Linked DNA regions of Homo sapiens. The protein of the gene in region 1 purifies or fractionates together with the protein of each later gene. This does not show direct contact. Each region holds a gene or a part of one and is shown in the gene's direction. Other genes may lie near its edges.

Region 1 (4,963 bases):
ATGGTATCCACGCTGGCACTGCTTCTCACAGTGCCTCTTTGTATAGCAGCCAAATAACAAGTTGTGTTATTTGCTGGATGAGAATGTTGCTGGCTGAGAATGTGTCTTTTTACTCTCTGAACCCTCACACCTTTACAGTCATGGGTGGCAGGTCTTTATGCATGAATATCTTCTCTGGTTGCAGCTGTAGTGACTTGCAGATGGATCTCAAGGGCAGTATTATTAGTAGTGTTCTTCTTGCCCTCTACCCCCTGGGATCTCTGCCATGTCATTGTACCCAGCTCGAGTTTCCCAGAGGTGACTGGCTATGACCTTTTGGGTCTTGGTTATTCGGAGCTGTTGAGCCAAGAATGAGCTCATTCACCTTTGTTACTTTTCCCTGCAAGCTGCTCATGTAGGGCCATATTGAAGGAGGTGAGCCATGCACCTGTACCCAGTGACGGCTCCTCTGTGGGCAGACTGCATCAAAACACAGAATGGACCACCCCCCGACCCTTTATAATTCGGAGCCACATTTAAAAAATACTCAGTCTACAACTCTGATGAAGAGACAGAGCACTCTTTGATTAAATAGATTGTTGTCCTCTTTCCTCTTCAAGGCTATAAGAAGACTTGGGAGAAGAGAAATGTCTGAGACTTCTGAACTTTGGCAGATAAAGTTGGTGTTAGAGTTTTTCAGCTCCCGAAGCCATCAGGAGCGGCTGCAGAACCACCCTAAGCGGGGGCTCTTTATGAACTCGGAATTCCTCCCTGTTGTGAAGTGCACCATTGATAATACCCTGGACCAGTGGCTACAAGGTAATAGTAGCATTGTAGCATAGCGCTCTTGTGCTTTTGAGATACATTCGGTTCAGGCTTTTCTGTTGTAACTTTGTTTTTTCATTGGTAAGCAAGATAAATCTGAGTATAAGCAAGAATGGCTATAGATTTAACGTTTCCAGCTAGATGAATTAGACTTTGATTATCTACTTTAGCTTCTTTAGTAAAATACATCTGACCCAGGCAGATAATATTTATAGCATTTTAAATACCACTTGGTGCTCAGGACCTTGTTCTCTCTTCCCTAGCATCAGGTCACATTTCCTTTCCAGTGCCTCTGTCTCCTGTTTCCTAGGGGTGTGGCCTGTTGCCTTCCTGAGGCCAGCAGCCATCCTGTTTTTGTACTGGCACCACATGTACATGTAGAAGTTGACGTGTGCTTGCTGAGTGAGCTTGTTGTACCAACTCAGTTTTGAAAACCTGGGACCGCACAGCTATGTGATGTCACAGTGGTGGCTTTCTATCAGCAGGATTTGTGATTGCAAGGAAATTGTAGTTACTCGTTAACAGTGTAGAAGTGATTCTGACTTACATGAGGCAAGCGATGGGGCCTTTAGATTTATGGAAATGTATCTGTGTGTTAAATACACCTGAAACTGATTTTCAGGAGTAGACTCCTTGATCTTTTCATTCTTTTTAGTTCATTCAAATGCTCCCAGTAAATATCTGACAGTTGCTTGCTTTGGGTTAATACTAACCTTAGTAATAGTAGTAGAAACAATTCTTGCTTTGATTAGTGAAAACTATTAGTAATCAATAGACCCTAAGCGTTTGAATATAATTGAGTTTAAAACTATCCACCTGTAACACTAGGAAATAAATTTCTGAAAAAAATTAAATTGTAAACCAAGTTGTGAGGGATATACTTGGAAAGCCTGATTTCAGACTCTCCATGTTTATATTTAAAAGCTGCATTGTATTTGTCATTTCCTGTTCAGATTCAAAGATCATATAGCTTCATAATTTTTTGGATAGTCATTTTTATCCTCATTTTTGGGGAAAAACATGTTATTTCAAAGGTTTTCGTGTTTCGTTTTTATTCAATTTAACATTTGATCACCTATGGCAGACCTTTGCTATTGATAATAAATACTTCCTTAAATCTTTGCAGATTCCCTGATTTGCACATTTCATATAATGTATGGAACTTTGGCAGTGATTAGAACATTCTCTAAAACAGGGCCCTGATTGCCTTGTTGCTCTTTAGCGCATTTGGTGGTTTCCAGCATTGCTGTCAGCCTCCATTGAATTTGACTTGCCACACAGATTTATCAAAAATGTGTTTATTTTTTAGTGAAAAACTAGAATTTTTTTTAAAACAAAACCTCTTAAATATATAGTCTCCTCTCTTACAAGCACTAGCAGTTGGCTTTGGGGTAGAGAACAATAAATTAACTGAAAATTGGAAATTGCATTCATATTTGTGTGTAAAAATCACAGATGCATATGTGGACTTTCAGGATCACTCACTGACAACTCATTAGATCTGAGATAACCCATTAAATCACTACACTAATCTGAAAATGCAGCCAATTTATATTATATAAATGTCGGTTTTGTTTTTTCTTTCTTTGAGACAGAGTCTCGCTCTGTCGCCAGGGTGGAGTGCAGTGGCGCGATCTCAGCTCACTGCAACCTCCACCTCCTGGGTTCAAGCGAGTGTCCTGCCTCAGCCTCCTGAGTAGCTGGGATTACAGGTGCACGCCACCACACCCAGCTAATTTTTGTACTTTTAGTAGAGACGGGGTTTCACCATGTTGTTCAGTCTGATCTCGAACTCCTGACCTCATGATCTACGTGCCTTGGCCTCCCAAAGTGCTGGGATTACAGGCATGAGCCATGGCGCCTGGCCTATATAAATGTTTTGTACAGTATTTATCTCCTCAAATTATAATTTTGGGCAAAGAAAGCGGGTTTCAAGTTTAAGAACTTTAAAAAGTTTTATTAACTTTTTCATATTTTGTTATGGAAATTTAAAGAATATACAAAGTAAGTAGACTAGTGTAATAAACCACAACACCAATTTTAATAGTTGCCAGCATTCTCCTATTTTTGCGTCATTTGTACCTTCACCCATTGCCACACTCAATTTTCCAAATTGTGCCATTTTACTTTCCCACCAGCAGTGGATTGCAATGCAATTTTTGGCATTGTCCTTTTTTTTTTTTTTTTTTTTTAAGACTTGTCAAGTGCAGTAGGAAAGCAAAGTAAACCCAAAGCAAGCAAATAAAAGCAGAAACCAATGAAACCAAAAACAGATAAGCAATAGAGAAAATCAGTGAAACAAAATGCTGGTAGACATGAGAAAGTCATTGAAGAGAGGCTGAACCACCATGCTCTCCTTCATGATGAGCTGTTCAAAGAAGAATCTCATCTGTTCTCCCTTAACCTTTCTCCCTCTGCTGCCTCCCCCAAACCTAAATGTTTCCACCTCCCAGTAGACTGACATCCTCACAACTGTGTTCAGTGGAGTCTACAGTTTTCATCTCACTCCATCTCTACAATGGTGAGGCTTTTAGCTACATTTTCCTTCTTGAAATGAGCCTCCCTTGACTTTGTCATAGCACACTTTCCCAATTTTTAAAAAAAATCCTCTTTAAAAATTCTCAGTATTTGTCACCATTTCACTGTCACTCCTTTGTTGACCCTTTTGGAAGTCATCCTTGCTCCTTTCCCTCCTTCCCTTCTCTGCAATAGCTGACCCATTGCTGATGCCTTTCAATCCTCATCATAGATATTTCTTGAATTTGTCCACATTTTACTATTTCTACCTAGAACAGAATGATGATTTTGTGCCTGGACCACTGTTATAGCCTCCTAAATAGCCTCCTTGCTTTTTCTCATCTCCATTCCAACCATCTCAATTTAACTGACAGAACAGTCTTTTAAAGAATAAACTGATGTAACACTCCTGCTTAAAGCTTTTCAATGGCTCCTGATTCAGCTGTGAAAGAAATCCCTACTGTGTGGCACCAGGACCTGTGTGACCTGCAAGGCGCCTGTTTTCCTCAACAAAGCCTCTTTTACACCACTTGCTCCCCACACCACCCTGGCCCCTTCCACTTACTCAAAAACACTGAGCTCCTTTTCACTGTGGGGCCATTGAATATGCTGTTTTCCCTCCCTAGAACCTTTTCCTCTCATTCTTCACCTGCCCAACTCATATTTATCCATGCAGCCTCAGTTTTAATGGCATTTCCTCCCAGGCCTTCCAAGACCACTCTCCCTCAGGCAGCTTTCCTGACATCTTTAGCCTGCCCGCTCATGCTCTCTACCTTTTTTCTGTATCAAAATGCCTTTGTTTGCAAGTAAAAGAAGGCCTGACTTAACCTGCCTTTAAACAGTAAGGACACAAGTATGCCTATGTTATTAGAGGTCTGCAGGTAAGGCACGTAAAGGGTCATCTTTTTCCAGTGTCTTCAACTCCATTTCTCTGAGGTTCCATCAGCTACATTCTGTGCCATGACTTTATCCTCAGTGCATTTTTCGGATGGTAATCAAATGGCTGTAACATGTTCACCTCTAGCTCAGCATGATACTCAGAGGAAGAATAGAGTTGCTTCTAGGAGTTTTGTGATGAGAATGAGGGAATTTCTTTCCCTGGAGCCTCCAGCAAGCTTGTCATTAAGTACCTCCTCAGGTTTCTGGCTCGAGTTGCATCTCATGCACACCTCTCAATCTATCCCTGTGGCAGAGAATGTCTCTTATTGAAAAAATGGCCTGGGTCTGCCTGTCTCTGAACTAACACTGCATCAGGAGAATGGGATTGCCTTGATCACCCAAGATCAGTGATTCTCAAAGTGTGGTTTATGGAGCAGCATGACCTGGGCACTTGTTAGAAATGGAGTTTTTCTGGCCCCACCCCAGACCTACTGAATAAGAATCTCTGTGCTCTGTGCATGGAGTGGGGCCCACTCATCTGTGGTTTAACAAGCCTTCCAGGTGATTCTGGCACATGTTAAAGTTTGAGGACCCCTGGCCAAGACTAGTAAGGATCTAGTTCTGGAGCTGAAGTCAGTCCCATCAAATATAATATATGGTGGAGGGTAGGGTGTGACAAGGGGTATTTCGGGGAGACAACCACAGTGACCACTGCACCTTTATAGCACTCCTCACAATTTGTAATTATGCATTTGTTTGTGTC
Region 2 (4,963 bases), on another chromosome or scaffold:
TAAGAGAACCACTCCTTCCTGACTTACCCACATGAGCCTGTGACACCAACACCTTAAAAAAAAAAAACTGGGCATAGTGCCGCATGCCTATGAGTTTTCACTACCCTCCAGCCTGGGTGACAGTGAGACTGTCTTTAAGAAAAAAAAAAAGATGGGGTCTCACTGTATTTCCTAGGCTGGTTTTGAACTCATGGCCTCAATTGGTTCTCCCGCCTCAGCCTCTCAAAATGCTGGGATAACGGGTGAGCTACCGTGCCTGGCTGACACCTTTGCTTTCTTAAGAGAGGCCTATGTGCTAGATGTATTGCACTATGAAAATGATAAGGGTGGTGATCCTAGAATCCTAGGATGGCTCTTGTCAGGACCTCTCTTACTTCTGGAAGGAATTTTTGGTTTTTGAGTTGGAGTCTCACTGTTGTTCAGGCTGGAGTGCAGTGGCATGTAATAGTTCATTGTAACCTTGAACTCCTGAGCTCAAGTAATCCTTCTACCTCAGCCTCCAGAGTAGTTGGAACTATAGGCATGCACCACCATGCATGGCAATTTTTTTTTTTTTTTTTAAAGGGATGAGCTGTTACTGGGCTTCCATCTATAATTGGGTCAGGGCTTGGTCTCCCAGGAGGCCCCACCTTCCAGCTGGTTTCCCCAGTCAGGACTGCCAGGGCTATTACGACAAGAAGGGGACATTTATTTTTTATTTTTATTTTTTGAGACAGACTCTTGCTCTGTCATCCAGGCTGGAGTGCAACTTCCGCCTCCCGGGTTCAAGTGATTCTCCTGCCTCAGCCTCCTGAGTAGCTGGAATTGCAGGTGCACGCCACCACTCCCAGCTAGTTTTTTGTAGTTTTATTTATTTCACTGTACGTTCTGGAGTAGATGTGCTGAGTGTTCAGGTTTGTTACATAGGTATACATGTGCCATGGTGATTTGCTGCACGTGTTTTTTTGTTTGTTTTGTTTTGTTTTGTTTTTGTATTTTTAGTAGAGACAGGGATTTGCCATGTTGGCCAGGCTGATCTCCAGCTCCTGACCTCAGGTGATCTGCCCACCTTGGCCTCCCAAAGTGCTGGGATTATAGGCATGAGCCACTGCGCCTGGCCTAGAAGGTGACATTCAGAGTTTGCTTTGCCCATTTAGAAGCTTCTCAGAGATTACTTAGTGGGCAAGGTGTTTTGATGTTATTTTTTTTGCAGACTAGATTGATGGGATGGGGTGATACTGAGTGGGAGTGGCAAGAATGAGAATGAGTAATGGTTTCTAGTTTTCTCGCTTTAGAAACTGGGTTGGTGGGGTGGCATTCTGTGAGAGGAACTGCTTGAGTGGGATCAGGTTTATGTGGGACTAGAAGTGGTTCCATATTAGCCATATTGCAGGAAAAGTGCCGGCAGAGGGCTGGGTGTAGTTGGTGTGAATGATTGAAGGACTGTTGGGGGCACACTAGGGTCCAGTTTGTTTAACATCCTTTGTCTAAATGACGAGTTAATGGGTGCAGCACACCAACATGGCACATGCATACGTATGTAACAAACCTGCACGTTGTGCATTTGTACCCTAAAACTTAAAGTATAATTAAAAAAAAAAATCCTTTGTCATTTTACTTCAGTTGGAAAGCTTCAAAAATTAAACTAATTTAAAATTGTATAATTAGCCAGGCATGGTAGCTCACACCTGTAATCCTAGCACTTTGGGAGGCCGAGGCAGGCAGATTGCTTGAGCTCAGGAGTTCGAGACCAGCCTGGGCAACATGGTCAAACCCCTACTCTACAGGATGCAAAAAAATTAGCTGGGCATGGTGATGTGCCCCTGTAGTCCAACTATTCAGGATGCTGAGGTGGGAGTATCATTTGAGCCCAGAAAGTTGAGGCTACAGTGAGCCGAGATCGCACCAGTGCACTGCAGCCTGGGCAACAGAGTGAGATCCTGTCACAATAAATGAATGAATGAATGACCAGTGCAGAAAAGGGGTAAAAATGGCAGTGGGAGTCTACCATTTTGTTAAATTCTTTCTGCTTTTCCCTTTTTTTCATCTACTACTAGCAGTAGTTCTAGAATGTTAAGCATTATTTGAGAGTCTTTGCTTAAACTAAGGACCTTTAGCTTGAGGTAGCTGTGGTTGTATTTCACCCAGGAGAGTGGTCCTTTGGGATGCAAGGCAGTTGTTCTAATACCTCCCAGACCAGTGATATGTGTGTGTGACTTGCCTACTGCTCTGTGCTGTCTGTTGTTGGAGGGTAAGTCAAGTGCTTAGACTTGAAGACTCTGATTGTGTGAATGAGTATTCAAGATGCAGGACCCAGGGCCCTGCCCCAGGTAGATTATTTGGGTCTATGATGAGGCCAGGAATCTGCTGTTCAGTCCACATGATTGTGACCAGGGGCTTCGTTTTGAACAAATAGTTTTGATGGGTTAAACAAGGATTTTTCTTCTGATTTATAAAAGTTATACATAACAACTATTTTTTAAAACATAGAACAGAATTGAAAGGCAAACTCATAGTTGACCTGACTCTCCAGGACAAAGTTGTGTTGCCTGTGGTCTGTGTTTCTCAGATTTTTTCCTCCAGTGTGTTAACAAGTGTGGATTCCCACGTGGCACTAAATATTCCTGGACAGTGTGATTATGAATAGGCCATATTTGAATGCTGTTGCACTTGCATTGTCCAGTTTTTCACTTGTACAGATCTATCGACGGACACTCCAGCATAAATACTTGATTAGGATAAATTTTTTTTTTTCCTTTTGGTAAGATAGGGTCTTGCTCTGTTTCCCAGGCTGGAGTGCAGTAGCGCAATCATAGCTCCCTGCTGCCTTGACCTCACAGACTCAAGTGATCCTCCCACCTCAGCCTCCTGAGTAGCTGGGACTACAGGCGCACACCATCATGCCTTGCTAATTTTTTAAAATTTTTTTGTAGAGAGAGGTCTTGCTGTATTGCTCAGGCTGGTCTTGGAGTCCTGCCCTCAAGCAATCCTACCTTGGCCTCCCAGAGTGGTGGGATTACAGGCATGAGCCACTGCGCCCAGCCTTAAGGATAAATTCTTAGAAATAGAATTACTGGGTCCAAAGAACATTTTCAATATTTCTGCCCTTCAGAAAGATGAGTCAGTTAGAGGGCTTCTTGGCCCTTAGCCTCGTAAAACCTGGGTGTTTTGTTTTGGTTTTTAATTGCCAATTTGGTAAGGAAAAGCTGAGTGTTCTTAAATGTTTGCATTCTTTTGGATATTTTATGAAATTGAATCTTTCTTCATGTTTGACAATTTGTGTTTTTTCTTTTGTGAATTATTTTTTCTGCTTCCTCCTGTATCCTTTTTTTCCTGTTGGGGTATTGTCCTTTTCTTAATTTTTAAGAGGTCTTGTTCATAGTAAGGATGTTGATTCCATGTTAACCTAAATTTATTTTAATAAAATTGAAAAGCATGCTGCTTTATTTTGCAGGCATGAGGATGTTGTATTTCTTACTCCCTTTTTTAGTTTACCTAAAGCAGTAAAAAGAAGAATTAATGCATTGAAACAACTTCAGGTGAGATGTGCTCACATAGAAGCCAAGTTCTATGAAGAGGTACATGACTTGGAAAGAAAGTATGCAGCGCTATACCAGCCTCTCTTTGACAAGGTAGGGAGCTCTGTTAATTTAATATACAGATAGTTTTCAGCTTACGAAGGTGTTAGGTTCCGATAAACCCATTATAAGTTGACAACATCTAGGGTAAGAACGCATCTAACCTGCCAAACATAGCTTAGTCTAGACTACCTTAAACAAGCTCAGAACGCTAACATTAGCCTGCAGTCAGGCAAAATCATCTTCCACAAAGCCTATTTTATAATAAAGTGCTGAGTATCTCGCGTAATGTATTGAACCCTACACAGAGAGAGGAACACAGTGTGGCTGTATTGGTGCCCAAAGTGTGATGGCTTCTGCACCATCAGGAAGTTGAAAATCTTTAGCTGAACCATTGGAAATCGGGGACTGTCTTTATTTTACATCTTTAGGTGAAACATCCAGGTTTACCCAGGGAATCATTTAATATTTTTCTTTGAACCCTAAAATTTAGAATCTTAAAATAAGTTATAAAAATATCCAGTTTTCAAAGTCTTTTAGTAGACATTATTTATAAATTTAACTCTTGAGTTCCTAAGTAAGCTAATAACATAATTCTAATAAGGTCTCATTTTTATGTAGAGAAGAGAATTTATCACCGGCGATGTTGAACCAACAGATGCGGAATCGGAATGGCACAGTGAAAATGAAGAGGAAGAGAAATTGGCTGTAAGTCTTTAGAAACATGTGACTCATGTTCTGTTTTAATACTGTTAAAAATAAGCATTTTTTAATGATTTTTAATGACTAGTAAACTTATGTGCTTCTAACAGTAGGTGCTGCTGCATCATTAGGTTGGGTTTAGATTCCTTTCTGATATGGATCTAGCATCTGACACAGTACTGTCAGTTAATAGGAGTAAGATGTAGTGCCACCTCAGTTATCTGTGGACAGGAGCATATTGAAATAAGGGATCAGACCAACAAAGATTAAAACATCAGAGAAAGCAAAGATGAAGAAGAGATGCCCCTGTGTTCTCAGTCACTGGAAGATTGGGGGAGTTGTGAGGGGAGTGCCTTCCTGCTCAGTGGCATGGACTAGCTTGCCCCCTGAGAGGTGCTCCGCCAGTGGATTGGTTGCAGATGGTGGTTGTGGTGTGGCCATCAGTCACCTGCTCACAGCCTTTTTCTAGTGACTGGTCCCATTCCAGTGCTGTGAAAACTCCCAGTGTACCATGGATTAACTTTGTCAGCCTGATTTTATGTTTGGGAGACAAGTAACTTTTATCCTATAACTAACTTTTTGCAGTTTTTTTTTTGGGGGGGGGGTGGTATATGATGATTTTGGTAGCCATATGTGTTTTTGATGCTTTAAAAATATATAGAACCTGGCCTAATTGAAGCCATGGCTGTGGATTAATACAGTTG
Region 3 (4,963 bases), on another chromosome or scaffold:
GCTTGAGCCCAGGAGGTTGAGGCTCCAGTGAGCCGCGATCAAGCCACTGCACTCCAGCCTGGGCGACAGAGACCCTGTCTCAAAATAAAAAAATAAAAAATAAGGCTTATTTGTACATCCCTTAAAATTAGTGCTATTATGCAACTTAGAAAATCTAGTATTCTTAAGTGAGACAAAGACAAAGGGGGAAGGTACTTAATTTGTTCATAAAATTATTGGTTTGTGTGTTTCTTTCTTGACAGGGAAATTGCAAAGAAGATTCTTTGGCAAGTTATGAATTGATATGCAGTTTACAGTCCTTAATCATTTCGGTTGAACAGCTCCAGGCTAGTTTTCTCTTAAATCCAGAGAAATATACTGATGAACTTGCCACTCAGCCAAGGCGACTGCTTAACACACTGAGGTATAGCCTATAATATAATTTTAGGGTTTCAATTTAGCTACTTGTTTATATCCTTGGAGGAGAATGACATGCGAAGAAACAGGAATAAAGGGCAAGGAAAGTAGAAACTCTAGGTCCACAGTCCTTTATATCCCAGAGACTCTGAATACTGGAAATTTTTTTCATAAATTTGGTGCTAAATTCGTTAGATCTGAACATATTATATGAGGCTTTTTATAGTCATTCATATTTATCTCTAACGTGAATATTCATACATGCTTCTATAGAAGTAGTAATGTGTTTAGTTATAGAGTACTCCCATATCAAGTCGGTGATAAATATTTTACTTATATGCCATATAATCATTGAATCTGAAAATGTCTGAATTTCTAAATGCGTGGTCCTAAGGATTTCACATTAAGAATTATAGGACTATATTCAAAATATGTGTAAGAACTGTAAATTCCAAATATTCTATTTTTATATGTGATTAGAGGAGAACTGTTGGCTAACTGGATTAGATTGCTTTTTGGTATTTTCTTAAAAATGAAACTTTACATATAAAATAGCCTTATTCAAATACAATTATAGGGCAAGTCTTTAAAACAATCACTTAAGCATTTAGTTTAAAAATAGAACTAGGTGCAATATATTGCTATACCTTAGTTAAGAGGTATTGTAGGCCGGTCACAGCTCACACTTGTAATCCCAGCACTTTGGGAGGTGAAGGTAGGTGGGTCATTTGAGGTCAGGAGTTCAAGACCAGTGTGGCCAACATGGTGAAACCCTGCCCCTACTAAAAATACAAAAATTAGCTGGGTGTGGTGGTTTGCACCTGTAGTCCCACCTACTCGGGAGACTGAGGCAGGAGAATCGCTTGAACCCGGGAGGCGGCGGTTGCAGTGAGCCAAGATTGCGCCATTGCAGTCCAGTCTGGGCAACAGATCAAGACCCTTGTCTCCAAAAAAAAAAAAAAAAAAAAGGCCATTGTAGCGTGGTGGCCAAGAGCGGGTTTGAATACTGGCTTTTCATCCTAAGTAGTTCTGTGACCTTGGGCAAGTTATTTAACCTGTCTGTGCCTTAGTGCTTGTATCTGTCAGTAATGGTGATAATAGTACCTCATAGGGTTATTGTGAAGATAATGTATACATAGGAGATAAAAAACATTTTGACTAAAACCTGGTGTATGGTAAGCATTATCTAAGTATTAGTTATTAATATATTTAGAAGAGGATCAAAGTATTATAATGAAAATAGGGTACAATTTACTCTTACTTTTAGTTACAGATAAGAAATTCCAAATTAGTGCTGAATAAATGTCTTGACATTTAAAAAATGAAATAATTTATGATTTTCCTTACATGAATTAATTTCTATATAGGCTTTATGTACTGTATCTTCAAAACTAGAATAGATGAAATGGAAATTTTTATTTATAGGGAACTCAACCCTATGTATGAAGGATATCTACAGCATGATGCACAGGAAGTATTACAATGTATTTTGGGAAACATTCAAGAAACATGCCAACTCCTAAAAAAAGAAGAAGTAAAAAATGTGGCAGAATTACCTACTAAGGTAGAAGAAATACCTCATCCGAAAGAGGAAATGAATGGTATTAACAGCATAGAGATGGACAGTATGAGGCATTCTGAAGACTTTAAAGAGAAACTCCCAAAAGGAAATGGGAAAAGAAAAAGTGACACTGAATTTGGTAACATGAAGAAAAAAGTTAAATTATCCAAGGAACACCAGTCATTGGAAGAGAACCAGAGACAAACTAGATCAAAAAGAAAAGCTACAAGTGATACATTAGAGAGTCCTCCTAAAATAATTCCCAAGTATATTTCTGAAAATGAGAGTCCAAGACCCTCACAAAAGAAATCAAGAGTTAAAATAAATTGGTTAAAGTCTGCAACTAAGCAACCCAGCATTCTTTCTAAATTTTGTAGTCTGGGAAAAATAACAACAAACCAAGGAGTCAAAGGACAATCTAAAGAAAATGAATGTGATCCTGAAGAGGACTTGGGGAAGTGTGAAAGTGATAACACAACTAATGGTTGTGGACTTGAATCTCCAGGAAATACTGTTACACCTGTAAATGTTAATGAAGTTAAACCCATAAACAAAGGTTAGTATAATTCTTAGACTTTGATAGGTAGAAGCATTAGCAGCTACAGAATTAGAATTTTCTCTTCCTAGATACATGTACAATATAATCTCTGGCTAAAATTGTTTCAAGAGAAGGAAATTTAACACTGAATGTGAACTATGGTGTTTTAAGTGCTATGCTTAGATTAGTGTGTGTGTATATATTGTATGCATATATATGTGTGTGTGTGTGTGTGTAATGTCATTAAAGTAATTTTAATTTATAGCTTATAAAGTAGGGAAGTTCGGCCAGGTATGTTAGCTCGCACCTGCAATCCCAGTACTTTGGGAGGCCTAGGCGGGCAGATCACCTGCGGTCAGGAGTTCAAGAGCAGCCTGGTCAACATGGTGAAACCCCGTCTCTACTAAAAATGCAAAAATTAGCCAGGCATGGTGGCGCACGCCTGTAGTCCCAGCTACTTGAGAGGCTGAGGCAGGAGAATCGCCTGAACCCGGGAGGTGGAGGTTGCAGTGAGCCAATATTATGCCACTGCACTCCAGCCTGGGGCGACAGAGCAAGACTCCGTCTCAAAAAAAAACAAATAATAATAAAGTAGGGAAGTTCAGTATATTTTAATGTACATTTAAGAGTACATTTCCCTTTATGCAGTGTTTGACATAAACTGATGAAGGACATTGCATTTAGTGAAATTTTAAAAGTAAAGACTAAGTACAGTCATGTGTTGCTTAACAACAGGGATATGTTCTGAGAAATGTGCTGTTTCATTGTGTGAATTTCACGGTGTACTTACACAACTAGATGCTAGAGCGTACTACACAACTAGCCTATATGGTATAGACCAGGGTATCTAATCTTTTGGCTTCCTTGGGCCACACTGGAAGAAGTGTCTTGGGCCACACCACACAGAATACACTAATGATAGCTGATGAGCCAAAAAAAAAAAAATCAAAAAAGTCTCATAATGTTTTAAGAAAGTTTATGAATTTGTTACGGGCTACAGGCAAGCTTTGCATGGCCTATTGCTCCTAGGCAACAAACCTGTATAGCATATAACTACTGAATACTGTAGGCAACTGTAGCACAATGGTATTTGTGTATCTAAGACGTATCTAAGCATAGATATGTAAACATAGGTACAGTAAAAATAATCATAGACTACTGTCATATGCGGTCCATTGTTAAATAATTGAAACGTTGGTAGGTGGTGCATAACTGTAAGTTACACGATACTTGAACTAGATTTTTACCTAGTTTTGTCCAGATCTACAGATATCAGGGAAAATGTGTAATATTGATATAGTGAATAGTTTTACCAAAAATGTCATCCTTATTCTGGGTTTATTCTATGGGGAGGTGTCTGTAGGAAGGGAGTTACAATACAACTGACTTTTTTTTATTTTTTATTTTTTTTATTTTTTTGGAGACAGAGTTTTGCTCTTGTTGCCCAGGCTAGAGTGCAATGGCATGATCTTGGCTCACTGCAACCTCCACCTCCCGGGTTCAAGCGATCCTCCTGCCTCAGCCTCCCGAGTAGCTGTGATTACAGGCATGCACCACCACACCCGGCTAATTTTGTATTTTTACTGGAGACAGGGTTTCTCCATGTTGGTCAGGCTGGTCTTGAACTCCGACCTCAGGTGATCTGCCCGCCTCAGCCTCCCAAAGTCTTGGGATTACAGGCTTAAGCCACTGTGCCCGGCCTACAACTGACTTCTTTTAAAGACAGTAATTTCATAGTCAGTTTTATCTTTACAGGGACCTTAAATTTCATTAATAGGGTACCTCTAATAAGCTAATAATGCTAATAAGCTGATCTATGAAAATGGAACTGTTATTCATGATATACTTTATTTAAATGGAAAATTGGTTATTTGGACTATAATGAGAAACTAATCTGTATAGACTTACATTTTCCTATTTTCATTTTAGGTGAAGAACAAATTGGTTTTGAGCTAGTGGAGAAATTATTTCAAGGTCAGCTGGTATTAAGGACGCGTTGCTTGGAATGTGAAAGTTTAACAGAAAGAAGAGAAGATTTTCAAGACATCAGTGTGCCAGTACAAGAAGATGAGCTTTCCAAAGTAGAGGAGAGTTCTGAAAGTAAGCAAAATTGGAGTCTTGTGTGGACCATGATGGAATATTTATAATTCTTTAACAACACAAAGTTTAATAGTAGCTGGTGTAATTAGGGAGGGGAAAAAAGCTAGCTTTTAGTGTCTAATGTAACCTTTCTGCTTATCTGGCTTCACTTATAAATGGTTAGCATTTGGGAAATTGTGACATCTTGATTTTGATGTAGAGTGTGTTAGAATGGAAAACTGAAATGCTTTAATAAGTGTACTTTTGGGAACCTGAGTCTTTCAGAGCTACTGAGGGTTTTTTTTAATTTTTTTGAGATGGAGTCTTGCTCGGTTGCCCAGGCTGGAGTGCAGTGGCGTGATCTCGGCTCACTGCAAGCTCCGCCTTCT
Region 4 (4,963 bases), on another chromosome or scaffold:
GAAGGATGTTCCTGGAGGGCTTTCATATCAAGAGGATAAAAGGATCAGATTTCTGATCCAGAAAGATCACTTAGGGCACTTGAGGGATGAGGGAAGGCAAGGCTGGAGACAAGGAGACCAGTTAGGAGAATCCTGGCGGTTATCTAGGAAAGAAATCAACATTTGGAATGGGTAGTAAAGGAATGATATATCAGGTATTACAGAATGAAGCATTTTGGTTTGGGGGAACGGTAGGGTTTGGAAATCTACTTTGCCATCTCCTACTTACGACTTGGGCAGATGACCTTTTCTTAGCTTCAGTTTTCTCATTTGTGAAATGGGAAAAAAGTATATAACCTCATAGGGTTATTGAGAGAATGAAGTAAGATAAAATGTGTAAAGTGATTAGTACGTGGTAGTTACTAATGAAATGGTAGCTAGTATATTAATAGTAGTAACTAATAGTGGCTATGGGAATGGAGGGATGGGGGGAGTGTATTGAGATTGGTGTGAGGGAGACAAACGTAGAATTCCACATTTTTTGTTTGGTGGATGGCAATGCTATTAATACATATTCAGACACTGAAGCAGGGCTGGGGTGAGGGTGAGGGCTGGGGTGTAGGGAGGATAAAATGTTTTCAGATTGGGATGTTTTGGGTTTCTAGCATTATTGGTACATGTAGGTAAGAATGTTAAGAGTAAGGCTTTGGTTGTTGGAGAAGCTACTAATTGTTAGTAGGTGTTCAGAGAATAACTGCTGGTGGTCTGTGCACCCATGACCATAGTAAGACACATAGGATTCAGTGTTCTTGTGGGAACCTGGGTTAGGTAAGAGATTTAGAGGGAACCCAGAAATACAGATTGTGTTTGACTGATGTGGCTGAGGGACTGAGGTTATGAAATTGGCTCTCTGAAATTTATGAAGGAGAGAGAATAATATGTAAATCCCCTCTTCATTTCTTTATCCTTTCTTTTTGAAGGAGGGGGAGTAAGTGGAAGGGACTAACCAAATGCTGTCAATCTTAAGTAATATTTCTCTCTAACCAATATCTAAAACAAATTGAGTCTGGAATCCACCATGTTTTTGATTAAAAAAAATTTTTTTTTGAGACAGTCTCGCTCTGTTGCTCAGGCTGGAGTGCAGTGGCTCGATCTCGGCTTACTGCAGCCTCTGCCTCCCAGGTTCAAGCGATTCTTGTGCCTCAGCCACCCAAGTAGCTGAGATTGCAGGCGCATATCACCACGCCTGGCTAATTTTTCTGTTTTTAGTAGAGACGGGGTTTTGCCATACTGGTCAGACTGGTCTTGAACTCCTGGCTTCAAATGATCTGCCTGCCTCAGCCTCCCAAAGTCCTGGGATTACAGGCATGAGCCACTGTGTCTAGCCATCCACCGTGTTTTTAGATAGTCTAGAAAATAATTTGTCAGTATTAACTCCTATATACCATTCTGCTTTGCTCTTTAAAAAGATCAAGCTGTGCTGGAAAGAGCACTAGATTGGGTGTTAGGGGACATAGTTCAGCTCTTTAGCTATTTTACGCTAAAGGAAGTTCATACTGTTTTTGTCCTTCAGTTTCCCTTTAAAATGTAGCTGATAGTCGTTTACTTATATCTCACCAAGGCAAATAATAAATGTGAAAATGCTTTGTAACTGAGAAATGCTTCAACAATACAGGATATTATTGATCAACCTCAGATATCATCTCTGGTCTGGAGATCATAGCTAGTGGTTTTAACTCACCATCTTTTTCAAGTGATTTTGAAACAATGATGAGTATAATGCCCTCCTGCCTAACTGGCCTTTTCCTGTTTCTCTTAATACATTTATTCACACCCTCTGGCTGTTCTTTCTAGATCAACAGTTCTCAGAGTGTGGTTCCTGGATCAACAGCATCAGCATCATCTGTGACATTGTTAGGAATACAGATTCTTGGGCCGCATTCCGGACCTCCTGTCCAGTAGTCTCGTTTAACAAGCTCTCCAGGTGATTCTGATTCACGCTTAAGTTTGAGAACCACTGTCTTGAATGAAGGGCTCTCACTTCAAATGTCTCCTCAGACTTTGACTTCTCATTTTAAAGTAGTCCTCCAGGTCGCTCTCTGATAGATCATCTTATTTTCTTTGTAGCACAGCTAAAATCCAAAATGTTTATTTTTGTTTACTTGCCCGTCTCACTTTGCACTAGGATATTGTAGACTGTTCAATAAATAAGTTTTGTGTAAATAAGAATCACTAGAGAGCTTATTAAAATGCTAACTTGGGAGTTTCTTCAGAGACTGGTTTAGTTGATTTGGTGATGACTCCATGTGCCTGCATTTTTAACAGGTGCCCTGTGATTTTGATGCTGGTGGTACCACCACACTTTGAGGAACACAGATTTAAATATTTTGAGGAGAAAGTACAATCTGTTTACCGTTGGAGTATTTGCAAAATCAAAATAGATAAATTAGTTAATATTGAATCTCAATAGTGAGCTTTTTAAAGTGTTTTTGTGATTTTTTGGGGGGTGCTTTTTCAGGTTGAGGCAGAACAGCTATCAGTAGTGGGTATATATACATTTATACTTTATCAATAAAAATACAGATTTGCTACTCAGGAGGCTGAGGCGGGAGGATAACTTGAGGCCAAGAGTTCAAGATCAGCCTGAGTAACATAGCAAGACCCTGTCTCTCAAAAAATCTTTTTTTAAATAGGAATCATATTGATGCATCTGAACAAACTCTCAGATGAACTCTTGAAGGAGATGAGGCTACCTCTGAGATGGCACAATGATGTGGCTGAAGAAATGAATTGGTATTAAGTTGCATTGGGTTCTGCTATTTTTTTTTTTTTTTTTTTGAGACAGTTTTTTACTCTTGTCACCCAGGCTGGAGTGCAATGGTGCGATCTCGGCTCACTGCAACCTCCACCTCCTGGGTTCAAGTGATTCTCCTGCCTCAGCCTCCCCAGTAGCTGATATTATAGGCACCCGCCACCATGCCCACCTAATTTTTTGTATTTTTAGTAGAGACAGGGTCTTGTCATGTAGGCTAGGCTGGTCTCGAACTCCTGACCTCATGTGATCCACCTGCCTTGGCCTCCCAAAGTGCTGGGATTATAGGCGTGAGGCACCACCTGGCCTCGGTTCTGCTGTTAGTTAGCTACGTAACCCTTGGGCAAGGAACCTAGGAAGTCTCTCCAGGTCTTGCAATACGAAGAGGCTGAGTTCCTATCCCGTTAGGTTATATGATTCTATTGTCTTTTATGCTAACATTCTGTATGTACATACGTTTAATGTCCTTATAGTTTGTGGGGAGGAATAGTGGAATCACCATGGAAAAATCATTCTGTTACTGAATTCTTCAACTTACTGTGGACTGGGCACAGTGGCTCATGCCTGTGATCCCAGCACTTTGGGAGGCCGAGGCGGGCAGATCGCTTGAGGTCAGGAGTTCGAGATCAGCCTGGCCAACATGGCGAAACCCTGTCTCTACAAAAAATACAAAAATTTGCCAGGCGTGGTGGCAGGCACCTGTAATCCCAGCTACTCGGGAGGCCGAGGTAGGAGAATCACTTGAGTCTTGGAGGCGGAGGTTGCAGTGAGCTGAGATCACGCCACTGCACTCCAGCCTGGGGGACAGAGTGAGAATCCGTCTCAAAAACAAAACAAAACGAAACAAAAAAACTTACTATGAAAAGTCTGAGATGGCAACAATCATGTGTAAGTGGGAGGGAAAACCTCTGAGTGTAGTGTGAAGAGCACTTCCTCATAGTGTTTCTGTCTGTTTATCACAGACCATGCTGAGCCACTCTGAGGAGTCTTCTGTTTGAGCCCTCGGAATTTCTTGTCCCTGGAGTGTGTATACTATATGACAGTTCTGGCCTCAGTGTGACTTAACTGGTTTGGGGACTTTTTAGGCTCTACTTTTTCTGACTCTCCTCTTCAACAGAAACAAGCTTGAGTGTTTGAATGATCATGTGGTACTCCACCAACAACCAGTCATTAACGATGTGTCCAAGATTGCTGAAATACTTCTCACAACTTCTGTCTAGCATTGTGGTCAAACTACCTGAATTCATTTTTGAGCTCTACCATTTACTACTGGAATGACCATGGATAAGTTACTTAACATCTGTAAATTGGGAGTAATAATTACACCTACATCATAGAGTTTTTGTGAGAATTAAGAGAGTTAATGTGTTGCAAGGTACATTTATTGGGAGCTTACATGGGAAGCCCCCAATAAATTGTAGTAGTGTTATTTCGGTAATTTTTCATTTGTCCCCCCGTTGTCTTTGTGACTGTATCTCACAGCAAACAGAAAGAAGAGGCAGGGGGGTAAATTGTGGTTTTAAAGGCTTTTCTGATGTCTACTGATATGTACAGCATGCATGATAAATCATTTGAGTTCCAAATCTTCTAGTTACCTAGATCTTGTAAAAACTTATAAACTAATGTCCTAAATCCTAAGTCTTTATAATGTCTAGTATTTGTACATCAAAAGCCCTAGTTAGGGGACTTTAATTACTTTTACTTTTCTCATGGATTCTGCTGTCAGTGGGTCCTAAATGAGAATACCTTAAAGCAGTGATTCTCAAAGTGTGGGCCACAGAATGCTGGGGTGGGGGTGATGGTAGTGACCGTGTCACTGAGACCCTTTTAGAGGTGCACAAGTTTAAAACTATTTTCATAATTACACTAATTTGATATTCTCCTTATTCACTGCGCTGACATTTATATTAATGGTGCAAAAGCAATGATGGATAAAACTGCCATCACCTCTGCGTGAATTAAGATGGTGAGTGACTCCATTTGGGAGGCCGAGGTGGGTGGATTGCTTGAGTCCAGGAGTAGGGGACTAGTCTAGGTAACATGATGAAACCCTGTGTCTACAAAAAATACAAAAAAATTAAATAGGCATGGTAGTGCGTGTCTGTAGTCGCAGCTACTCAGGAGACTGAAGTGGGAGAATTGCCTGAGGCACGGAGTGTCGAGGCTGCAGTG
Region 5 (4,963 bases), on another chromosome or scaffold:
AAGTGGTAATTTCTTTTTCCTTTTAAACATGAAAACAAAAAACATTATTTTTGTCAAACAGGAAAGTTAAGATGTGATTTTTGAAGGTTGGCTGTGAGGTAAATGGAGAAGAGCGTCAGAAAATGGGTTCTTCTTTGGAATCTCCTTTCTGAATGAATGGGCTGGCATGAACTGCCCCATCTCTAAGGAACTCAGTTTCCACATTTGTAAATTGAGGGGCTTGGAAGAGATTGTCTCTAGTGTTCCCATCAGCTTAAAAATTCTGTAATAACAATGACAAACATTGGCATGATCATCCTGCATCGTTCTCATCATTTTTTTTTTTTTTTAAGAGACAGGGTCTTGCTCTGTCACCCAGGCTGGAGTATAATGGTGCAATCATGGCTCACTGCAGCCTCAAACTCCTGGGCTCAAAGAATCCTCTTGCCTCAGCTTCCCAAGTAGCTAGGACTACAGGCATGCACCACAACATCCAGCTAATTTTTTTCATTTTTCTAGAGATGGGGTCTCACTATGTTGCCCAGGCTGGTTTCAAACTTCTAGCCTCAAGCAATCCTCCTGTCTGGGCTTCCCAAAGCGCTAGGACATCTGCGTTATTTAGTGAGTTGGAAACGCATACTCATTCTGCTCTGTCCTGTCAGTGGCATTTGATTAGTGGTGTCACCTTTCTCCTTGGAGGGATGGCTCCTGGTCTAAATGTAATTTCATGTGGACCATGAAACATCAGTTGATACAGGGTTGATTTTGTCCTTGATAGATATTTTTACCTTTTTCATAATGAATCTCATGTCTAGATTTCTAAATAATAATGTCTTAAGCAGAAAAGACCCAGATTGGGTGGATGTAGTCAAAAGGTAGATTAAAACATGTAATTTGGAAATGAATTGCACCATATTGCTCTTGGTCATACTCTCCAAGGTTGTAGTTCTTTAAGCTTCTTCTTTCTTCAGCCAAGTGCTCAAACCTCTGGAGTGCTGACTTAGTTCTGGCCAGCTCTTAGAAAAACTGAACTCTGTGTGTGTGAATTTGGAGGGGTGACTGGAGCATATCCCTGAAAATCAAGAGCAGTGACCTCACTGGCCTGAACTGACTCCCTTTAAGGGCCTCACTTACATGGTAATTGCTGAAGATGATGCCATGGGAATCAACACCTCCCTTGGAAAAATGTCTCCTTGTTCACCTTCACTGCTTCTATTGTGTTTTCAGTCACCTTTGCCTAGCTTTTTTGTGGCATAAGTTTCTCTTGTGAATGCCTCACATTGAAATGAATGGATGTTTTTGATTGGGTCACAAGGAAGGGACCATTTAACCCAGCACTTAACCTTTGAAATAGTCTGACTATAAATCCTCTTACCAGCAGAAATGTCCTCAAAGGCACAATGTAGATGGCTTTCTCCCTAGCATTTCATATGTCCATAGGTTGTATGAGGGTATATGGCCTGGGGCCAATCTCAGAAAACCCCAGGTCTGTCATTTCTATGTTAGTACCTGTGTTTGTCTGTTTTGCATTGCTATAAAGGAATACCTGAGGCTGAGTAGTTTATAAAGAAAAGAGATTTATTTGACTCATAGTTCTATATGGCACTGGGATCTGCTCAGCTTCTGGTGAGGCCTCAGGAAGCTTTTACTCATGGCGGAAGGCAAGGGGACCTGGCATGTCACATGGCAAGAGAGGGAACAAGAAGGGAGGGAGATGACCTGCTCTTATAAACAACCAGGTCCCTCGTGAACTAATAGAGTGAGAACTCACTCATTACAGTGGTGAGAGCACCAAGCCTTTCATGAGAGTTCCTCCCCAATGACCCAAACACCTCCCACCAGGCCCACCTCCAACACTGGGGATCACATTTCAATATGAGATTTGGAGGGGGCACACATCCTTACTACATCAGAATCCAAGCTTTAGGACACCCTCCCTGCAAATTTAGTAGGTATGTTGTTCTTGAGGGCATAGGCTTCAGAGTCAGCCTGTCTAGATTCAAAACCTGGCTCAGATGCTCCCCCACTATGTAACTTTGGGCAAGTTGGTTAAGTTGTTTTATAATTTCTCCAAGCCTCATTTCTCTCATCTGTAAAGTGGAAATAATCATAGCGTCCCCTTTAAGTCTCATGATGAAAGGAGAGCCTTGGTGCAGTGCTAGCACATAGTAAACACTCCATAAATGTTAACTATTATTATTATTTTTTTTTTTGGTGCATCCTTGCTTTTTCCTTCCTACCTCTAGGGGGGACAGGGTGATATTGGAAGGATCATGGGTTGGGAGAGAGATTAAGTGGGTTTAAATCCTGGCCTTAAGCCATTTATTAGCTGTGTGGCCCTGGGCAAATTACTTAACCTCTCTGGACTTACTCCCACATCTATGAAGCCAGGATGTCACTCCTGACTAACAGAAGTGTTATAAGAATTAGAAGTAGGCTGGGTATGCTGGTTCGCACCTGTAATCCCAGCCCTTTGGGAGGCTAAGGTGGGAGTATAACTCGAGCTCAGGAGTTGGGAGACCAGCCTGGGCAACATAAAGAGACCCCACTTCTGCAAAAAAAATTTTTTTAATTAGCCAAAAGTAGTGGCGCACATATGTAGTCCCAGCTCTTTGGGAGGCTGAAGTGGGAGGATCCCTTGAGCCCAGAAGTTTAAGGCTGCGGTGAGCTATGATTACGCCACTGCATAACAGAGTGAGATCCTGCCTGTCTCTTAAAGGAAAAAAAAAAAAGGATTAGAAATAATCCTCACAGGATATGGAGAAAAGGGAACTCATACATTGTTGGTGGAAATTAAATTAATTACACTTATACCCAATAAATTTATACAAATTATATACAAAAATAACAAAAAAGAAATAGTTCTCACAAAGAACCTTTCACACTTATTTTGTACCCAGCACTCTATTGAGTGGTGAACGTGTATCACAATCCATAGACAGGAACTCTCATTACCATTGTGCCAATGAGTTCTTTCTGCATGTGTAATATTTTAAGAGGATAAGACCATACAGGGGAAGTCAACATATAAGGGAGGAAGCAGATGGTCTGTGTCAGGAACTGAGAAATACTCATGAATTTTTATTCAAATCCACTTCATTCTGGAAAATGTACTTACAATTTTTTAAGGTGCTCCAACTTGAGGAAATCATCACGTTTAATACTAGTGCTGGTTCTTTTTAAAGCTTAACTTGAAGTTTGCCCTATATACCAGGGTCTATAAATGTGTCTTGGTTTAATGAAACTGAGTTATTAAGAAGAGTCTTCTCTTATGTTCTCATGGCATAAATAACCATTCCTCCCTTTCAGGGCCAAATCATTGACTTCCAAGGGCTGCTCACAGATGCCATCAAGGGAGCAACCAGTGAACTTGCCTTGAACACCTTCGACCATAATCCAGACCCCTCAGTAAGTGGCGAAGATGTGACATTCATCTTTCAAATTGCCAACATCCAGATGAACTCTGGAAATATAATTTTGAGTACAGTGAAACCTTGAGATCAAGTTAAAGGCCATAGCCACCTGCCATCGTTTGTTTCACCAAGACCTGTGCATGCCCGGGGTTTCTTCCTAAATTATGAAGCAATATTGTAATGTGAGCCTTTCCGCTCCTCTCATCAGGAACGACTGCTGAAACCTCTGAGTGCATTTATTGGCATGAACAGTGAGATGCGAGAATTGGCAGCCGTGGTGAGCCGGGTAAGATCTGATATTCAATTCACAAATTTATGGAGGCAGGCTGGGGCTTCTGGAGCTTTGTGGGCTGCTTCTTTTATTAATAACAATAAATATGATCATTTATTTATAAAGTGCCCCCACTTGCGCAGGCACTCATATTGTTTAGAGGCACAATAATGCATGATAAATAAATTATAGAGTCATAAAATTACAATATACAAACCCCACCATCTCATGATAGAGGCCAAGAAAACCAAGAGAGAAAAAGACTTAGGAATGAAGGGACAGGTGAAAGGTTTTATAGCAGAGCCAAGAGTCAAGGAAAGAAAGCCTCTTAAAGAAGAAAAGAGTATGTCTGCATCTGGTTTAAAAAGTCAGAGCCTAGAAATAGAGACGTCGGGAGTCTGATGATATCATCATTGAAAATCTCCATGAAAAACACAATTAGCAGGAAAGACTACCATCCAGACTACGGACTTTTCCAGCTTGCACTGTGGAACCAGAAGGCAGTGAAGAACAGGCTTTGGAATTAGCTGACCTGCCTTTGATTTCTAGATCCTTCTCTTGCTAGCTGTGTGACTTTGGGCAAGTTCCTGGGAAATAAAATAGATTCCTGAGTTATAGGGTATTTTTCTAATTTCTATTGCTTCATATTTAATTGAAGACTGAAACCTAGGCAGGCTCAGAGGGGGGTTTAAAATGATCCCCAAAATTCACAGCTCCTCTGAGAAGCTAAGGGCTCCTGAGCTGTCTCTGTTCAGCTCAGCAGTTGTTTCCTGTATGCCTCTTGTGTGTCAGGTGTGTGCTGTGGGCTGGAGACACAAATGTGAACGAGTCAGAGCATAGTCCTTGCCCTCAAGAGTTTCTCATCCCAGGGACAAAGTGCACTTTAAGAGCATGAAGGAGGGAGGGGTGGGGAAAGTGTTAGGAAAGAAGACAGGAAATCGCTAAGGGAAAAAGTGGAAGAGGGAGGCTAGGAGCTGTTCTGGGCATAGGCACTTCCATGAGAAATTGCAGTTTGTGCACATGTCCTGTGGGCCACCTAAGAAGCAGGGAGTGGTGGGGAACGGGTGGAGAGAGGCAGGGTTCCTGAGGAAGGGTGCTGTGAGCAGTACCCAGGGCTGAGAACACACCTATAGAAGAGGGGACCTTAGAAAGGCGCCCGTCGGAGGATGGGATCATCCCATGTGCTTGTGGATGGCTTGTTCTATGACAGTGAGATGAATGAATAGCAAAGAAAAGGAGATGGGGAGACCATCTATAAGGTTTTTACCAGTGAGAGGGGATGAGGGACTGAGCCAGGCTG
Region 6 (4,963 bases), on another chromosome or scaffold:
GTGGCCTCTGCTGCCTACTGGCTTTTAACATGGGCAAAATCCTGCCCCTCTGGTGAGCAGAGCACCACTTACCCGCCTCCCCCTGGCCCATCCGTAAAATGAGGAGGCTAGATTTATAATTCAGTCCCCCATGGCAGTCTCACTCCAGTAGGGGAGCTAGACATCTGAGCAGAGATGGAGGAACTGGGAGGGGATGTGGCCTGCCGATCCCTGAGGGAAAGACAAGTGTCGGTGCTTGGAAGCTTAGCTGGATGCTTGGAGGAACAGGGAGGAGGCAGGGAGGCTGGAGTGGTCCAATCACACAGGGCCTTGAGAGCCAAATAGAATTCACTGAGGCTGCCAAAGCTCTAGAGGCATAAACTATTATCCTTTTTTTCAGCTAAGGAAACCAGCTCAGAGAGGCTGATAGTTTGCCTGAGGCCTCTCAGCAGAGGGCGAAAGCCAGGTCTTCTGATACCAAGTAATTTACTGTGGGTCACACCACCTCTGAGGGCCTTTTCAGTCCCGAGGTTTTCTGATGCTGTGATTTTGCCCAAGTTCGCCACCACCAGTTGAGCTTTGTCTTTTTTTTTTTTTTTTTTTTGGAGACAGAGTCTCACTCTGTCCCTCAGGCTGGAATGCAGCGGTGCGATCTCAGCTCACTGCAACCTCCACCTCCCTGGTTCAAGCAATTCCCCTGCCTCAGCCTCCCAAGTAGCTAGGATTACAGGGGTTCGCCACCACACCCTGCTAATTTATGTATTTTTAGTAATGATGGTGTTTTACCATGTTGGCCGGGCTGGTCTTGAACTCCTGACCTCAAATTATCCACCCCCCTAGACCTCCCAAAGTGCTGGGATTATAGGCATGAGCCACCGCACCCGGCTGAGGCTCTTTTTGATTCCCTGTGTCACAGGGCTTAGAAAATTCCATCAGGCTGAACAAGCAGTTTCCCATCCAGGGCAGCTCTAGTTGGGGATGTGGAGGTGCTCAATGCGTGGAATAAGCCAAGGGCAGCTTAGCAGTGTCCCCTGGAGCCAGGAAAGGCCCTGAAGAACACTCAGTCCAGCCCCTGTAGAGGGCAGAGCCACTCTGCTGCCTCCCCAGCAATGAGACAGGTTTACACAAGACTAGTCTTGAGGTGCATGCCTCCATGCCTGGCTAATTTTTATGTATTTTTAGTAGAGACAGGGTTTCACCGTGTTGGCCAGACTGGTCTTGAACTCCTGACCTCAAGCAATCTGCCCCCACTTGGCCTCCCAAAGTTCTGGGACCACCCCACCGTGGGCCACTTTGTCTCCTTTTTGTGAACATTCTGTACCCTTCAACTCCAGGACCCTGGATCCCCTGCTTCCTAGTATGAAGCTGATGGCCTGGATGGGGACCACTGGTATGAGGGCATCAGGTACAGTGACAGTCTAGACTCGGGCTCAGCCTGCAGGCCAGACCTCAGGCTCAGCTGGTTTCTCTTTTTGAAAACAAATTACCAGGCTGGGCATGGTGGTTTACGCCTGTAATCCTGGCACTTTGGGAGGCCTAGCCAACATGATAAAACCCTGTCTCTGCAAAAAATACAATAATTAGCTGGGCATGGTGACAGGCACCTGTTGTCCCAGCTACTCGGGAGGCACAAGAATCGCTTGAACCCTGGAGGCGCAGATTGCTGTGAGCTGAGATCACGCTACTGCACTCCAGTCTGGGTGACAGAGCAAGACTCTGTCTCAAAAAAAAAAAAAAGAAAAAAAAAAGAAAACAAATTACCAGAAACTTGTAAAGTATAAAGATGGAGACAGGGTGGTGAGGAACCACCCTGGTACAAAGCGAGCAGAGTCAGGGCTGTAGCAGAGGCCAAAGCCAGGGGCAGAGGCATGCAGAGGAGGCATCAGGGAGGGCTTCGGAGGGAGGCAGAGCTCAGAGTTGCCCTGCACCCCGAAGGCGGTGTAGCGTTTCACCATGTGGAAGAGCAGGCAGTGGGCAATGGCGGGAGGAGAAGCAGGGTGCTAGCACAGGGCTGTGGCCTCCTCACAGAAAGTGGTTGCTGCTGCCCCACAGGTCTGCCCACCTCTAACAACAGGCACAACCCAACCGGGAGCGAGAAGAAGGACCCATCCTTTGCCCAGCTCTCCGATGTGCCCGTGGAATCCCAAATGGAAGAGCTGACAACCAGGTGCTCCCCTGCCCCGCCTTCCTGAAAGGGTAGGGTTGTCTGAGCAGAGGTGCCTCCATGGGCAGAGGGACTGTGTCCCTCCCCTTGCACTTTTGACTCATTTGCCCAGAAGGCTTGTCCTGTTTGGTCCTGGGTTCTAGGCCTGCAATTCAGGGACTGGCCTTCAGAGGACAGAGGGCCCGGCCCAAACCCCAATGACCCATAGTCCAAGAGAAATTTTATCAAGCATGGATCACTGAACCAGTTTCTCACTACGTTAAACCTTTTAAGACCCCACGCAGCCATGGGAAGGGAAAGACGGGAACCTCTACAAATTGGAACTCAATTTGTAAGGGGCCTTGAGGTAGCTTACATTGCAGGGAGCCAGGCCCATAGAGAGGAATCCATGGTACCCACAAGAGTCAGTGAGAGGAGGGGATGGGTCAGAGGGAAGCCTGAGCCTGAAGAGCAGCCATGCTGGCAACCACATTCCCAGGGCCCTCTGTCACCCACGCACACCTGTGTGCAGCTCCAGCCACACTGAGCACTGTCTCCTGTGGTCCAGGCTGGCCATCCAGGTGGAGGAGAATGAAATGCTAAAGGCTGCCCTGGGCAGTGCCCTGCGGGGAAAGGAGGAGGACTTCCGGATGTACCATGAGATCCTGGGCCAGGTGAAAAGTGTCTTCCTGCAGGCCCTGCGGCAGCAGAAGACAGGCAAGCAATAGGATGACAGCCCAGTGTCGGCCTGGCCGGGTGGGCAGCCTCAGGTCTTGAGAGGATAAGACTCTGTCTGAGGACTCCATCTGCTCCGGGAAGCCAGCCCAGGGCAGCCAGCTCAACCACTTCTACCAGAAGAGGCTCCTTAAGGATGACCAAAACCAATGTCTCAGGCCAGGAAGGCAGAAGAGAAGCCCTGGTGGGACACTGCAGGAGACCCTGGGCTGGCTGGGTTACAGCAGCAGGGAGGCCCAGCAGCCCACTGGCAGAGGCGAGAGCTCTGGGATGGCAAGGCGGCTGTGAATGGACAGATGCAGTCCCTCGGGCAGGTGTTCATCGCCCTCATCCTAGGTACTAGCCCTGGATGTCCCCATGGCTTCACACACAGAAGAGCCCTTGGTTACCCTAAGTGGGCATATCCCCCATGCCACTCAGCCCTGCCCTATCCCCTCACCCCCATCCCGGCTCCATCTGTAGCCGTCCACACCCTACACAGACTTGGGGCACTATGCTCTCAACCAGTTTGTCAGCCCACTCCTCAGGACACTTCCTCAGGTGCAGACCCTTGGACTTGTAATAATAATAAGTATTTTCATAATCACTGCAGCTCCCAGTGAGTGAGCATCTACTGTGGCAACCTGACCCCATTCAGTCCTCTAATGACCCAGGGGTTTGTTGTCTTATTTGACAGATGAAGAAACTGAGGTTCACAGAAAGAAGCTGAGCTAATATTTAACTGCAGTCTGCCTGACCCCAAAACCAGGGTCTTGCCGTTCAGAGATTACCCAGGGTAGGCGCACCCACCCACCACTGAACAACCCCACCCCTAGGCAGCAGCTCCAAGAGGCATCTTTGTTTGCTCACCAAGACTGCTGATGGATGCTGGTGGCAGAGGGCCGAGGTGGGGCTCAGCTGGAGCTTCAGGCAGAAGGGTTTTGAGGTAGTGGCTCCAGTCAAAGGTACAGTGCACCTCCCTCGCCATGGTGAACTTGGAGGGATGCTGCAGGGGCACCCTAAGATCCGCAGGCCTCTATGACTGTCAGTGTTGCCCTTTCTCAGCTGTAACTATGCACTTATAGCTACAGGAAGGAGTGGCCCCAAGGAGGGTCACTCATAGCCACACACCCCAACTCCGACACCCTGGCCACACAGGTGCACCCACAGCCCCACACAAAGATGCAGATGCACACACATACCTCAATTCAGGAGCATGCAACTGTACGTGCACACAGGCACCTCCATGTGTGCACACTCATGGACACACAGGTGCAGATGAGCACACACATGTGGATGTGGACACACATTCCCACACGTGAAGACATAGCCACTTGTGTGTTGCTTGTGCAGTGATGCACAAATGCAGGTGCACATACTGTGAAAACACCCCCTTCCCCAGGAAAAGCCACTGGGGCTCCTGCGAGCATCTTGTCAGCTCCTTCCTTGGAAAAGCCACTGCGGCTCCTGGGACCCTGTCTTCTCAGCCCCTTCCTTGGGGATGGGGCTATGGAGGGACCCTAGCTGGCCCCCACTCCTCAGGGAGCCCCTGACCCTGCATGGGGTCACACGGATCTAGAGATCCCACAGCAAGTTAGAGCAAAGGCCACCGGGATGAACTGATGATTCTGGTGGGGTCCTAAGGGTCTCTGGGAAGGAAGAGTTTTTCTCTGGTTCCTTGTGAAGGAAAACGGCCAGGCAGAGAGCCAGGAGAGAGAGGGTCTGTGCTTGGAGGGGACAGTGTGTGACAGCGAGGGGTGGGCTGGATGTAGAGTCTGAACACAGAGGAGTCAGCACCTTCTCCTGCAGGCCCTGAGGAGCTCCAGAGGGTGATCTGAGTATGAGGGGTACAGGCTCTGGCCTCAGTGCAGTCCCAGGGAGTGAGAAGCAGGCATAGGATCAGCCATCCTTCCTCAAGATCACCTCAGGGAAGTGCAGAGATGGTGTGACCCACACTCCAGCCACTTCAGGGTGGTTCTGCTGCCCTTCCTGGGCTATGCCTGAGAAAGGAAGGAGCATTAGGTCATGGAGTCTGGACAGGTGGGGCTGCCTGGGGCATACTTCTCTCCCCACTTACCAGCTGTGTGGCCTTGGGCAAGTTATTTAACCTCTCTGATCCTCCACATT

Evidence for each region.
Region 2: the proteins of ANAPC1 (region 1) and NAP1L4 fractionate together in Homo sapiens (co-fractionation; one large-scale study listed by BioGRID). This does not show direct contact.
Region 3: the proteins of ANAPC1 (region 1) and USP1 purify together in Homo sapiens (affinity purification with western blotting, with the first as the bait; one study listed by BioGRID). This does not show direct contact.
Region 4: the proteins of ANAPC1 (region 1) and TRIM33 purify together in Homo sapiens (affinity purification with western blotting; 2 studies listed by BioGRID, with this or other methods). This does not show direct contact.
Region 5: the proteins of ANAPC1 (region 1) and KATNAL2 purify together in Homo sapiens (tandem affinity purification; one large-scale study listed by IntAct). This does not show direct contact.
Region 6: the proteins of ANAPC1 (region 1) and CCDC13 purify together in Homo sapiens (co-immunoprecipitation; one study listed by IntAct). This does not show direct contact.

Annotation. Positions count from the first base shown.
Region 1 is NC_000002.12:111,772,694-111,777,656, reverse strand, and holds part of ANAPC1 (anaphase-promoting complex subunit 1), read left to right. Parts: intron 1-599; coding exon 600-798; intron 799-4,963. UniProt on the Homo sapiens protein: Component of the anaphase promoting complex/cyclosome (APC/C), a cell cycle-regulated E3 ubiquitin ligase that controls progression through mitosis and the G1 phase of the cell cycle.
Region 2 is NC_000011.10:2,970,750-2,975,712, reverse strand, and holds part of NAP1L4 (nucleosome assembly protein 1-like 4), read left to right. Parts: intron 1-3,469; coding exon 3,470-3,611; intron 3,612-4,178; coding exon 4,179-4,265; intron 4,266-4,963. UniProt on the Homo sapiens protein: Acts as a histone chaperone in nucleosome assembly.
Region 3 is NC_000001.11:62,442,917-62,447,879, forward strand, and holds part of USP1 (ubiquitin carboxyl-terminal hydrolase 1), read left to right. Parts: intron 1-242; coding exon 243-403; intron 404-1,821; coding exon 1,822-2,513; intron 2,514-4,424; coding exon 4,425-4,595; intron 4,596-4,963. UniProt on the Homo sapiens protein: Negative regulator of DNA damage repair which specifically deubiquitinates monoubiquitinated FANCD2. Also involved in PCNA-mediated translesion synthesis (TLS) by deubiquitinating monoubiquitinated PCNA.
Region 4 is NC_000001.11:114,504,238-114,509,200, reverse strand, and holds part of TRIM33 (E3 ubiquitin-protein ligase TRIM33), read left to right. Parts: intron 1-4,963. UniProt on the Homo sapiens protein: Acts as an E3 ubiquitin-protein ligase. Promotes SMAD4 ubiquitination, nuclear exclusion and degradation via the ubiquitin proteasome pathway. According to PubMed:16751102, does not promote a decrease in the level of endogenous SMAD4.
Region 5 is NC_000018.10:47,059,684-47,064,646, forward strand, and holds part of KATNAL2 (katanin p60 ATPase-containing subunit A-like 2), read left to right. Parts: intron 1-3,288; coding exon 3,289-3,387; intron 3,388-3,600; coding exon 3,601-3,678; intron 3,679-4,963.
Region 6 is NC_000003.12:42,706,867-42,711,829, reverse strand, and holds part of CCDC13 (coiled-coil domain-containing protein 13), read left to right. Parts: intron 1-2,031; coding exon 2,032-2,146; intron 2,147-2,690; coding exon 2,691-2,850; 3' UTR 2,851-4,963. UniProt on the Homo sapiens protein: Required for primary cilia formation and promotes the localization of the ciliopathy protein BBS4 to both centriolar satellites and cilia.